Linked DNA regions of Homo sapiens. The protein of the gene in region 3 purifies or fractionates together with the protein of the main gene of each other region. This does not show direct contact. Each region holds a gene or a part of one and is shown on either strand. Other genes may lie near its edges.

Region 1 (3,563 bases), on a different chromosome or scaffold from region 3:
GCCCTGACATGCCTCGGGGCTTTTGCTCGCACTAGCCCTCATTTCCTGCTTTGTCATTGTTGTTTATCAATCATTGAGTACTTTCAGTGTTTTTACATCTGGAATCCCACTTAATTTTTAAAATGGAGGTGTCTAAACTGTGCCTTAGAAGGCTCAAGTAACATCCCAAGATCACACAGTGTGTATCAAAGCAAGACTACAAAACTCAGGTCACTGGACTCCAAAGCTGATGGTCTTAAAATTGTTCATCATTGCCTCTCTTTACAGCCCAGTTCAAGGGGCACCTTCTCTGTGAAGCTTCTCCTGACCCCTTCAAGCAAAATTTACCACTTCTTCCTTTGAGTTTGCCAGGGCCTTTGTACATCCCCATTACAGCATGACATTATACTTTAATGACTTGAATGTAGCACTCTTTGAGCTCCTCTGTGGTAGGAGCCCTTTTTTTAAATCTCTGTATCCCTGGTAACTAGCTGAGTGCCTAGGCAGGCTCTTAGTGACACATTTTGGATGCACATTAAAATCTGGCTGCTGGACTCATTAAGATTGTGGGTCTGTTTCTTAGTGCTTGGCCTTAACACACTAAAAATAAGGCCAGATTTATACATGATCTTTAAAAAAATAAAAACACCACATGCAATACATATTTTTGTAATTTCAAAGCCTTCCTAACATCAGTTATTGAGGACTCTTAAGCAGAAACCTAGTCACAGGGCATTTAGCCTGTAAGGACCCCTGATCTCTAGTTCATAAACACCCTCCAGTATAACGGGGGTAAAACAGATCAAATTACCTACACCCTACTTGTGAAGTGTCACACCACAGATGACAACTGTTTAAACTGTAGCTCTTGTCCTATAAATGAAACTGTGGTTGGGCTCTCTGCTGTGGCCTGAGTTCTGTCTGGGTTGATGGTGGCACACAGTGACGTTTCCATTTTGCAGAAACTCAGGAAAACTATTGAGTTGCCTGACACTTATTTCACAGTATGTTATAGTTTTATGCAAATATGACTCATTATATTCAAAAGAAAAGTTATGGAATCTGTGCTATCATATGTGACACGTGAGAGGCTGATCGCCCAGATAGGTGTAAGTAAAGATGTATTATATATATAAGGTGAGGATTTGGGGTTGAAATAATGCTCTAGAAATATCACTGGACATGAGTCTCAAGAGAGCTGCAACATTGTCTCAGAAGGAAAGAGCTAGTTTCATTGTAGCCTTCCCTGGAAAATACTAGAAGCTTGTTATTGACTTCGATGTCAATTTGCAAAAGACAGATGGAGAAAGAAGGCATGGGCCTTCTCATTTCATAGATTAGAGCGAATCCCTTTGTTATGTTATCCCATCTTGGACACAAACAGGCACCCAATCTTATAAGTTGACATTTAACCTTAGTACTTTGACAGACTAACATACCTCCCCAGAGAAGGCCTGTCCATTGAGGAGGTGCTCCGACCCTTGGCTGTCCTCACTCCCAAAGTGTAGTCGGATCTCCTCCAGCCGGTGGCTGTATGTCATGGGCCCTCCAGATATGTTGACCAAGTGCTCCTTGTCCAGGCGAAGGGATACGTGTCTTCCAGTGTTGTACATGGTCCCACTGACCTGCAAGGCAATTAGCAACAGGTCAAGCAAGGCCCTCCTTCTTCTATGCCTCCCCAAACCCAGCATGGTGCTTGGATCAACACCTTTTGCTTCCTCTTGATGGGAAGATGGGCTAAATCCACATGTGGAGTAGGGCGTGGCAGCTGCCCCAGAGGGTATATGTGGGATCTATGGTAATTTCTGTGAGGCATAAACCACATGATGGCTTAGGAATTTGAGGTAAGAACTTGAAGGAGACTTTTCATCATTTGTGATTAATATTTTGTGCATTGTATTTTATAAAAAATGAATTTGTCCTTCTTACTATAAGGATTTGGAATGGAAAGATACTGCAAGAGTTCTAAATCTCAGCTGTGAGAAATTGGAGAAAGCAGTTAGCAAGGGGTGAGATATTAAGAAGGCCAAATGAGACAGGGAAGAGAAAATGAGTGACTAGAAGCAGACGCTCATGGGAGATGGAAAGCCTAGGTCTGAATTCTCAAGCGTCCTATCTGGTGTGTCCTGCCCTGCAACCAGACATTGCACAGAATCCTCATAGCTTGTGGGCCTCAAGTGGTAAACTAAAGGGATTCACTCAAACTTCCAATTTCATAGATTCCTAGACTTACTCCTTATTCCTGATTCCATCTTGCTCCAGCCCCTTCAAACTGCTAACATGACTGCTTGGCATTCCTTTTCCTTCTTTTCTTGCTGGGACTTGATGTTCAGCTTCATTTTCCTGACTGTGACCTCAACAACAATTGATTCTAGAACACTCATTCCCATCTGAAACTCTACTTTCTTACTCTCTTGGGTTGACTTAGCTCTGGGAGTAGGATCTAGAGCTTAGGGAGACTTTGAATGAGTCTGGAAGGAGTGTTTCTGGGTTACAGGAGGCTGAACTATTTGGATTTTCTTCCTGCTTACTCTGACTTTGGGCCAAGCCTTCAGCCCTAGTGATTCCTGAAGGGCTTCCTGTACCTTCTGACACCTTCATTAGATGTGGTTTTCATATATGTGCTCTATAGCACTATCTTTTACCTGCCTCTTTTCCACCTTTCTGACACTGGTGTTGTGAATGATTAGCTCTTGAGTTGTTCACTGTGGCAGAGACCATAATGCTCACCAAATATTCCAGTGACTCATTTTGTTTCCTGCCACCTTACTGTAGAATGGAGCCCATGTGACTGATAGGGGCCATGGGTTGGGAGGGGTCATGACAAGTGTCACTTCCAGGTTGAAATAGTGGATTCCCCAGACTCACCTTTCCCTGGTACATCGACCAATGGCATTATATGGAAATGGCAATGTGGTGCAGCGACTGCATGGAGCTCATGTCAGCCTAGGCCCCTAGAGATTATGTGCAGTTTACAAAAATGACAGGAATTCTTCCCCTCCCTATAACTACACTCCCAACAATGTAATTTTGTAACTGCTGTCATCTAGATAAGAGGCTATTTCTCTACGTCGAGTCTGGGCTGGCCTTGTCACTTACTTTGGCCAACAGCATGTGCTGCACACAACATGCTAGTCCTGAGAGTAGACCTTGAGGGCATGCGTGTTTTCTTCACTTCTTCGTGGAGCCGTGAAACTACCATGCAAATGAGCCTGGGCTAGCCTGCTGGAGGATGGGGCCACAGTGAGGAGAGCCATCCCAGGAGAGGCCGTCTAGACGGGCTACTCTGTGGCTGATCCACTAGCTGACTGGCCCAGCTGAGATCAGCTTAGCCTGGCCCAGGTCAGAAATGTCCACTGACCCATAGGCTTGGAGCTAAATGATTATTTAAGTCTCTAAATTTTGGGGTGGTTTGTTATGCAGCAAAAGGGAACTGATAGACACTAAGTCAGTCATCTTCTTTCTCCTGTGAAATCTGGAACTATCAACAGAAACTCTCCGTTGAGTTCCTGAACTGCAAGGTCGCCTGAGTGCCAACCATACTGTTAAGCAGAGAAAGTCAGATCAGAGAGAGAGGACTGAGG
Region 2 (3,563 bases), on a different chromosome or scaffold from region 3:
CCAAAAACAGCAGACTCGGTGCTACTCCCATACAATTATGAAGAAGAGATTGCCAACAGCATGGTTTCCTAATTTTCATTTTCACACTGAACTGCTAGACTACATTTGACATACACTGGTGACATTCAAAGGTATAGTTCTGGTAAAATAAAATTGAACATATGGTGGCACCAGCACTGAGAGCTTGGTTCTTTTCCTGATCAGCAGTTTGGCTCTTCATCAGTTAACTGCCTGGGCCTCAGTTTCTCAGCTGTTAAATTGAAGGAGGTGGATGAGTTATAACGTTCTTTCTAGTTCTTACACAGAATGAGTTTCTTGAGTTCCAATATGCTGGAGAAGAAAAATAGAAGAGTTTGGCCACTAATTTATAACAGAAGTAGTATATACCAGGACACGTGATAAATTATAGACATTTTCTGTTAGGGAGACTTGTCTGAAGACTAGTTTTATTACTTTCATTTCTTCCTCAAAGATCCTTTCATAAAAAACAAACAAACAAAAAACAAAAAACAAAAACAAAAAAAAACCAAGGCTGGGCGCGGTGGCTCACGCCTGCGATCCCAGCACTTTGGGAGGCTGAGGTGGACGGATCACAAGTTCAGGAAATCAAGACCATCCTGGCCAACATGGTGAAACTCTGTCCCTACTGAAATACAAAAAACTAGCCAGGTGTGTTGGCGGGTGCCTGTAGTCCCAGCTACTCGGGAGGCTGAGGCAGGGGAATCACTTGAACCCGGGAGGTGGAGATTGCAGTGAGGCAAGATCACACCACTGTACTCCAGCCTGGCAACAGAGCAAGACTCCGTCTCAAAAAAAACAAAACAAAGCAAAACAAAAAACCTTTCACTAATTTCTTCTTGGCTTGTTCAGTTCCTGGTATAGTGTCCGTGCTTCTCTCTCCCCACTGTGAATCTCAAATGTAGTCCTGTGAGTCATTAAATATATTTTTATTATTAGAATTACAGCTTCATGTATAAAATCTGAATCCTTTTATATAACAGTTGTAATGACATTCTGAGTAACAAAGTCAACATCTTGTACAGATTCCTTTCTCATTAGTTATCACAGGCTGGTGGGGGAAAACTTGTTTCCTCTGTTATATATTGGAACAATTCAAGACAGAAGGGAATTGATTTTATTGAGGGTGTCACCGTACTGGGACATTTCTCAGAAAACCCTGAGACTGCTTTGGGTTTGGGGGAGGGAGAAGAAAGAGGATTTTGTTTTAAAGTCATTTCTTTGGGGTACCGAACACCACATCCCATCACTCATCATTAATAGATGTTTTGCCCTTTTGGATTCTGGCTTTTAACTGTTTTGGATTCTGGATACTTAACTGTTCCCAGGCAAGTAAATTGATCTCAATATTCTGGTTATTTATTGCTACATAACCTCCAAGCTTAGTTGTTTAAAACACAGTTGTTTATTATTATAGTTCACAGTTCTGTGATTTGGCCAGGCTCATCTGGACAGTTCTCACTTGGGGTCTCATACAGTTGTGGTGAGATGTAGTTGGAGTTGGACTTACCGGAAGGCCCTCTGGGCAGGATGCCTGAGATGGTATACTCATATGACTGGAAGCTGATGCTTGCTGGGAGCTTAGCCAGAGTTGTCACTGGAGCACCTACCTACACGTGGCTTCTTCCTGTCTCTAAGTCTTAAAGAAGCTTCCAGCCAGTTAAGGTTCCACTTAGAACTGGCAGTGCCACTTTTATCTATTCCATTGGTTAGAGCACTCATGCAGACTGCTGAATTTCAAAGGGTGAAGAATTAGAAGCCACCTTTTGATGGAGAAGTGTCAAGGTCACATTGCAGAAAGTCATGTAGGTTGTGGCCATCTTTGAAAAATATAGTCTACTGTATTAAGGCACTGAGCCTTAATTTCTTGTTTATAAAGGAAAGATAACATTAATGGTGTTGTAGTTTTAAAGATTCAGTGAGATAATGTTTTATTCGGCATAATATCTCAATATTTAACAAATAGTGAATATCATTACTGTTGTTGTCTCCAGATTTTATACTGGTTCCATACAGGGCTATAGAACTTCTAGAATGCCTTAGTCTAGTACTTTGGCATCATTACTACTAGGTAATGATAATACCCTTAAGATCTGCCAAGAAGATGAGGCAAATGGATTCAATAGATTTTATAGTGACTTGTTAGGAAAGAACTCAATGGAAACGGTGGAATGATTTGGGAGAACCAAGTCATTTTTCTGTTTTCTTTGCTACAAAGGATTAGAAAAGCCTCAGTTACTTGAGGCCAACTTTCTCTTTTGATATGCTTTCAGATATTACCTTGTGTCTTTAAGTGCAAGTTTATCCAGGGTTGATGGCAGGATCTTGCCTCTAATTTGCTTCCACAGGGCTTAATTCAGAGAGGAGGGAGACTCAGGAAACCTTGGGGCGGTGGGGGAGGGGGGGCATCAAGTAGGAAGCTTTATCTTATGATTCACTATAAATTGCAAGATGTTCTGGAATGATGATACATCAGCAGTTTATAAGTCATAATTTTTGTTTTAATTTGCTAGACATCTGTTAGCTTCGATGGCAACCATATGGGAATCTAAATTGCGTTTTGAATTACAGGGAGATGGTAGGAAGAAAGCTAAATATGGTTATGAAAGTGTCATATGGGAAAAGTGTAAGAAAGGTATAAAGTGGGGAAAGTAATTGAATATAGGCTTGCTTAGTGTGGCCACTCCCTCTGTGGGGCAGTATGAAGGCGCAGAAGCATTCTCACTTGATATACTCCGCAGATTGAAATGAAGCCAAGTGGGGAGAAGTTGGAAAACCAAATCATGTTTCAACCACCATAAACTTGCCAAAATGTTGCACTCATTTAGATGGGTCACTTTGTTTTAATGTCCACAGTAATAGGTAGTCCCTGGCAAAAGGTGAAAGCAATCTGCATTTTTAACAGAACTTTTCACTAATGATGTTTTTCTTGTAAGCACCCCAAAGAGTCTTCCAAGAATATTATATCTTTGTGACAGATGAAGAAATTGGAGTACAGAGATGTGGAGTAACTTTTGAGGTGTTGAAGAGCATGTCAAGGTTCAGTTTCAGAGTGTTAAGTCTCTTCCGTAATGATAGCCCCAGCTTTTTGGGTGGAGACTTATTTTAGAAGATGCTTGTTATTCTAAAATAAAACATCAAGTAAGTCATTTACATCTGTTCATAATCGAAAAGTGATAAAGTTTTTGCATATGCCACAATTAACACCACCCACAAGCACAAAAAAGTTAGGATGAAAATGTTCTTCAAGAATATGGTGGAATAATTGTAGCCTATTGAAAATTCATAAATGAAAATTGGAGTATTGTAGACAGCATTCTTGAATCACATGTTTGTTTCTGTGTGTAATACTGATGACTGTCTTAAAATTTCTAACTTCCAAATAAATCATACTCCACTGGATTATAAGGGCTTCAAGTGTGGGGGCTGTCTCACTTTCATAAGCCCAGTGTCTTGCGCATTGTCTGAAACACAGTAGATGTTTTGATAAACGTTTGGGCCAGGCTTGGGGGCTTACACCTGTAATCCCAACACTTTAGGAGGCT
Region 3 (3,563 bases):
ACTTTGGGAGGCCAAGGTGAGAAGATCACTCGAGCCTAGGAGTTCAAGTCTGGCCTAAGCCACACAATGAGTCCCCATCTCTATTTTTAAAAGAAAAAAATAACCGGACGCGGTGGCTCATGCCTGTAATCCCAGCACTTTGGGAGGCTGAGGCGGGTGGATCACCTGAGGTCAGGAGTTCGAGACCAGCCTGGCCAACATGGTGAAACCGTGTCTCTAATAAAAATACAAAAAAATTAGCCGGGCATGGTGACACATGCCTGTAATCCCAGCTACTCAGGAGGCTGAGGCAAGAGAATCACTTGAACCCAGGAGAAGGAGGTTGCAGTGAGCCGAGACCGCACCATTGCACTTCAGCCTGGGCAACAAGAACCAAACTCCGTCTCAAAAAAAAACAAATTTGGGGCAGCCATCTCCTTCCACACCCCATGGGGAGAGGACTAGGGCTTGGTCAGTCTGCTGCTTTCACTGTTAAACACCAGCGTGGTGCAGGCTGGTGCTGATGGCTGTCCAGTTCTGTAGGTACAATGATGCCACACCCCTACAGAGATGCTCCATACCAGGACTCCAAAATTATAGTTCTTAGTGCCCTGGTTCTGCAGTTACCATACTCTGCCACCTCCCATTCTACCATCTGGGAGCACCGTACCAGAGCCATTTCTGCTGTCAATGTCATGGAGACAGAACTATGTCCTTCATCTCTCCCCAAGATCTCCTTCCACCCCAGGTCAGGGAGCTTTTTTTCAGAACACAGAGTATTTAAATTTTAATTTAAAAATTAGCCTATTCCTGAACAGTGAGCCTGGCTGCCTTCAATGACCCCAAGAAACTTTGCTCTGTTGAAGGGGACTGATCAAGGGATTCCCAGTTACCCATTATTCCAAAGTTGAAATCCAGATTCCAAGACAATATTTCTGGCACCTCTCACTCAAGGAAAGAGGGGAAGAATTTAAAAACACAGGTTGGATTTCTAGGAGAGCATCTTGCTGTATGTCAGTTCCTTGTGGGCGAGGACCACATCTGATTCATATCAGGGTCCCCAGAGCCCATCCAGCCCTGGCCCAGAGTTTCCTTTGGTGAGTGTTTGGAGGATGAATAAAGAGATGGCAGGACGGCAAGAGGAGTGGCACCAGAGGCTCTTGTCCTAGGTTTTCCACTCTGGGGCCCCAAGTGTGGGGAACTCACTATGCTTTTTTTTTGTTTGTTTTTTGAGACAGAGTTTCGCTCTTGCTGCCCAGGCTGGAGTGCAATGGCATGATCTCAGCTCACTGCAACCTCCACCTCCCGAGTTCAAGCAATTCTCCTGCCACAGCCTCCAAAGTAGCTGGGATTACAGGCATGCGCCACCATGCCCAGCTAATTTTGTGTTTTTAGTAGAGACAGGGTTTCTCCATGTTGGCCAGGCTGGTCTCAAACTCCTAACCTCAGGTGATCCGCCTGCCTTGGCCTCCCAAAGTGCTAGGATTACAGGCATGAGCCACCACTGCAATCACGCCCGGCTCTATGCTTTTATAAGGGAAATGATGGATCCAAAGTGCTGTCCACTATCTCCCACTCCCCATCTCTCTTCAGGTCAGACTTGTTCTGGGCCAGGAGGAGCTGAGGCTGCAGACTCCAGCAGAGACGCTGCTGAGTGACTCCATCCCCCACACTGTGGTGCTGACTGTCGTAGAGGGCTGGGCCACGTTGTCAGTCGATGGGTTTCTGAACGCCTCCTCAGCAGTCCCAGGAGCCCCCCTAGAGGTCCCCTATGGGCTCTTTGTTGGGGGCACTGGGACCCTTGGCCTGCCCTACCTGAGGGGAACCAGCCGACCCCTGAGGGGTTGCCTCCATGCAGCCACCCTCAATGGCCGCAGCCTCCTCCGGCCTCTGACCCCCGATGTGCATGAGGGCTGTGCTGAAGAGTTTTCTGCCAGTGATGATGTGGCCCTGGGCTTCTCTGGGCCCCACTCTCTGGCTGCCTTCCCTGCCTGGGGCACTCAGGACGAAGGAACCCTAGAGTTTACACTCACCACACAGAGCCGGCAGGCACCCTTGGCCTTCCAGGCAGGGGGCCGGCGTGGGGACTTCATCTATGTGGACATATTTGAGGGCCACCTGCGGGCCGTGGTGGAGAAGGGCCAGGGTACCGTATTGCTCCACAACAGTGTGCCTGTGGCCGATGGGCAGCCCCATGAGGTCAGTGTCCACATCAATGCTCACCGGCTGGAAATCTCCGTGGACCAGTACCCTACGCATACTTCGAACCGAGGAGTCCTCAGCTACCTGGAGCCACGGGGCAGTCTCCTTCTCGGGGGGCTGGATGCAGAGGCCTCTCGTCACCTCCAGGAACACCGCCTGGGCCTGACACCAGAGGCCACCAATGCCTCCCTGCTGGGCTGCATGGAAGACCTCAGTGTCAATGGCCAGAGGCGGGGGCTGCGGGAAGCTTTGCTGACGCGCAACATGGCAGCCGGCTGCAGGCTGGAGGAGGAGGAGTATGAGGACGATGCCTATGGACATTATGAAGCTTTCTCCACCCTGGCCCCTGAGGCTTGGCCAGCCATGGAGCTGCCTGAGCCATGCGTGCCTGAGCCAGGGCTGCCTCCTGTCTTTGCCAATTTCACCCAGCTGCTGACTATCAGCCCACTGGTGGTGGCCGAGGGGGGCACAGCCTGGCTTGAGTGGAGGCATGTGCAGCCCACGCTGGACCTGATGGAGGCTGAGCTGCGCAAATCCCAGGTGCTGTTCAGCGTGACCCGAGGGGCACGCCATGGCGAGCTCGAGCTGGACATCCCGGGAGCCCAGGCACGAAAAATGTTCACCCTCCTGGACGTGGTGAACCGCAAGGCCCGCTTCATCCACGATGGCTCTGAGGACACCTCCGACCAGCTGGTGCTGGAGGTGTCGGTGACGGCTCGGGTGCCCATGCCCTCATGCCTTCGGAGGGGCCAAACATACCTCCTGCCCATCCAGGTCAACCCTGTCAATGACCCACCCCACATCATCTTCCCACATGGCAGCCTCATGGTGATCCTGGAACACACGCAGAAGCCGCTGGGGCCTGAGGTTTTCCAGGCCTATGACCCGGACTCTGCCTGTGAGGGCCTCACCTTCCAGGTCCTTGGCACCTCCTCTGGCCTCCCCGTGGAGCGCCGAGACCAGCCTGGGGAGCCGGCGACCGAGTTCTCCTGCCGGGAGTTGGAGGCCGGCAGCCTAGTCTATGTCCACCGCGGTGGTCCTGCACAGGACTTGACGTTCCGGGTCAGCGATGGACTGCAGGCCAGCCCCCCGGCCACGCTGAAGGTGGTGGCCATCCGGCCGGCCATACAGATCCACCGCAGCACAGGGTTGCGACTGGCCCAAGGCTCTGCCATGCCCATCTTGCCCGCCAACCTGTCGGTGGAGACCAATGCCGTGGGGCAGGATGTGAGCGTGCTGTTCCGCGTCACTGGGGCCCTGCAGTTTGGGGAGCTGCAGAAGCAGGGGGCAGGTGGGGTGGAGGGTGCTGAGTGGTGGGCCACACAGGCGTTCCACCAGCGGGATGTGGAGCAGGGCCGCGTGAGGTACCTGAGCACTGACCC

The links. The genes of interacting proteins can lie anywhere in the genome.
Region 1: the proteins of CSPG4 (region 3) and CA10 purify together in Homo sapiens (co-immunoprecipitation; one large-scale study listed by IntAct). This does not show direct contact.
Region 2: the proteins of CSPG4 (region 3) and TSPAN5 purify together in Homo sapiens (co-immunoprecipitation; one large-scale study listed by IntAct). This does not show direct contact.

The regions. Positions count from the first base shown.
Region 1 is NC_000017.11:51,746,215-51,749,777, forward strand, and holds part of CA10 (carbonic anhydrase-related protein 10 precursor), read right to left. Parts: intron 1,605-3,563; coding exon 1,419-1,604; intron 1-1,418. UniProt on the Homo sapiens protein: Does not have a catalytic activity.
Region 2 is NC_000004.12:98,652,112-98,655,674, reverse strand, and holds part of TSPAN5 (tetraspanin-5), read left to right. Parts: intron 1-3,563. UniProt on the Homo sapiens protein: Part of TspanC8 subgroup, composed of 6 members that interact with the transmembrane metalloprotease ADAM10.
Region 3 is NC_000015.10:75,688,822-75,692,384, reverse strand, and holds part of CSPG4 (chondroitin sulfate proteoglycan 4 precursor), read left to right. Parts: intron 1-1,572; coding exon 1,573-3,563. UniProt on the Homo sapiens protein: Proteoglycan playing a role in cell proliferation and migration which stimulates endothelial cells motility during microvascular morphogenesis. May also inhibit neurite outgrowth and growth cone collapse during axon regeneration.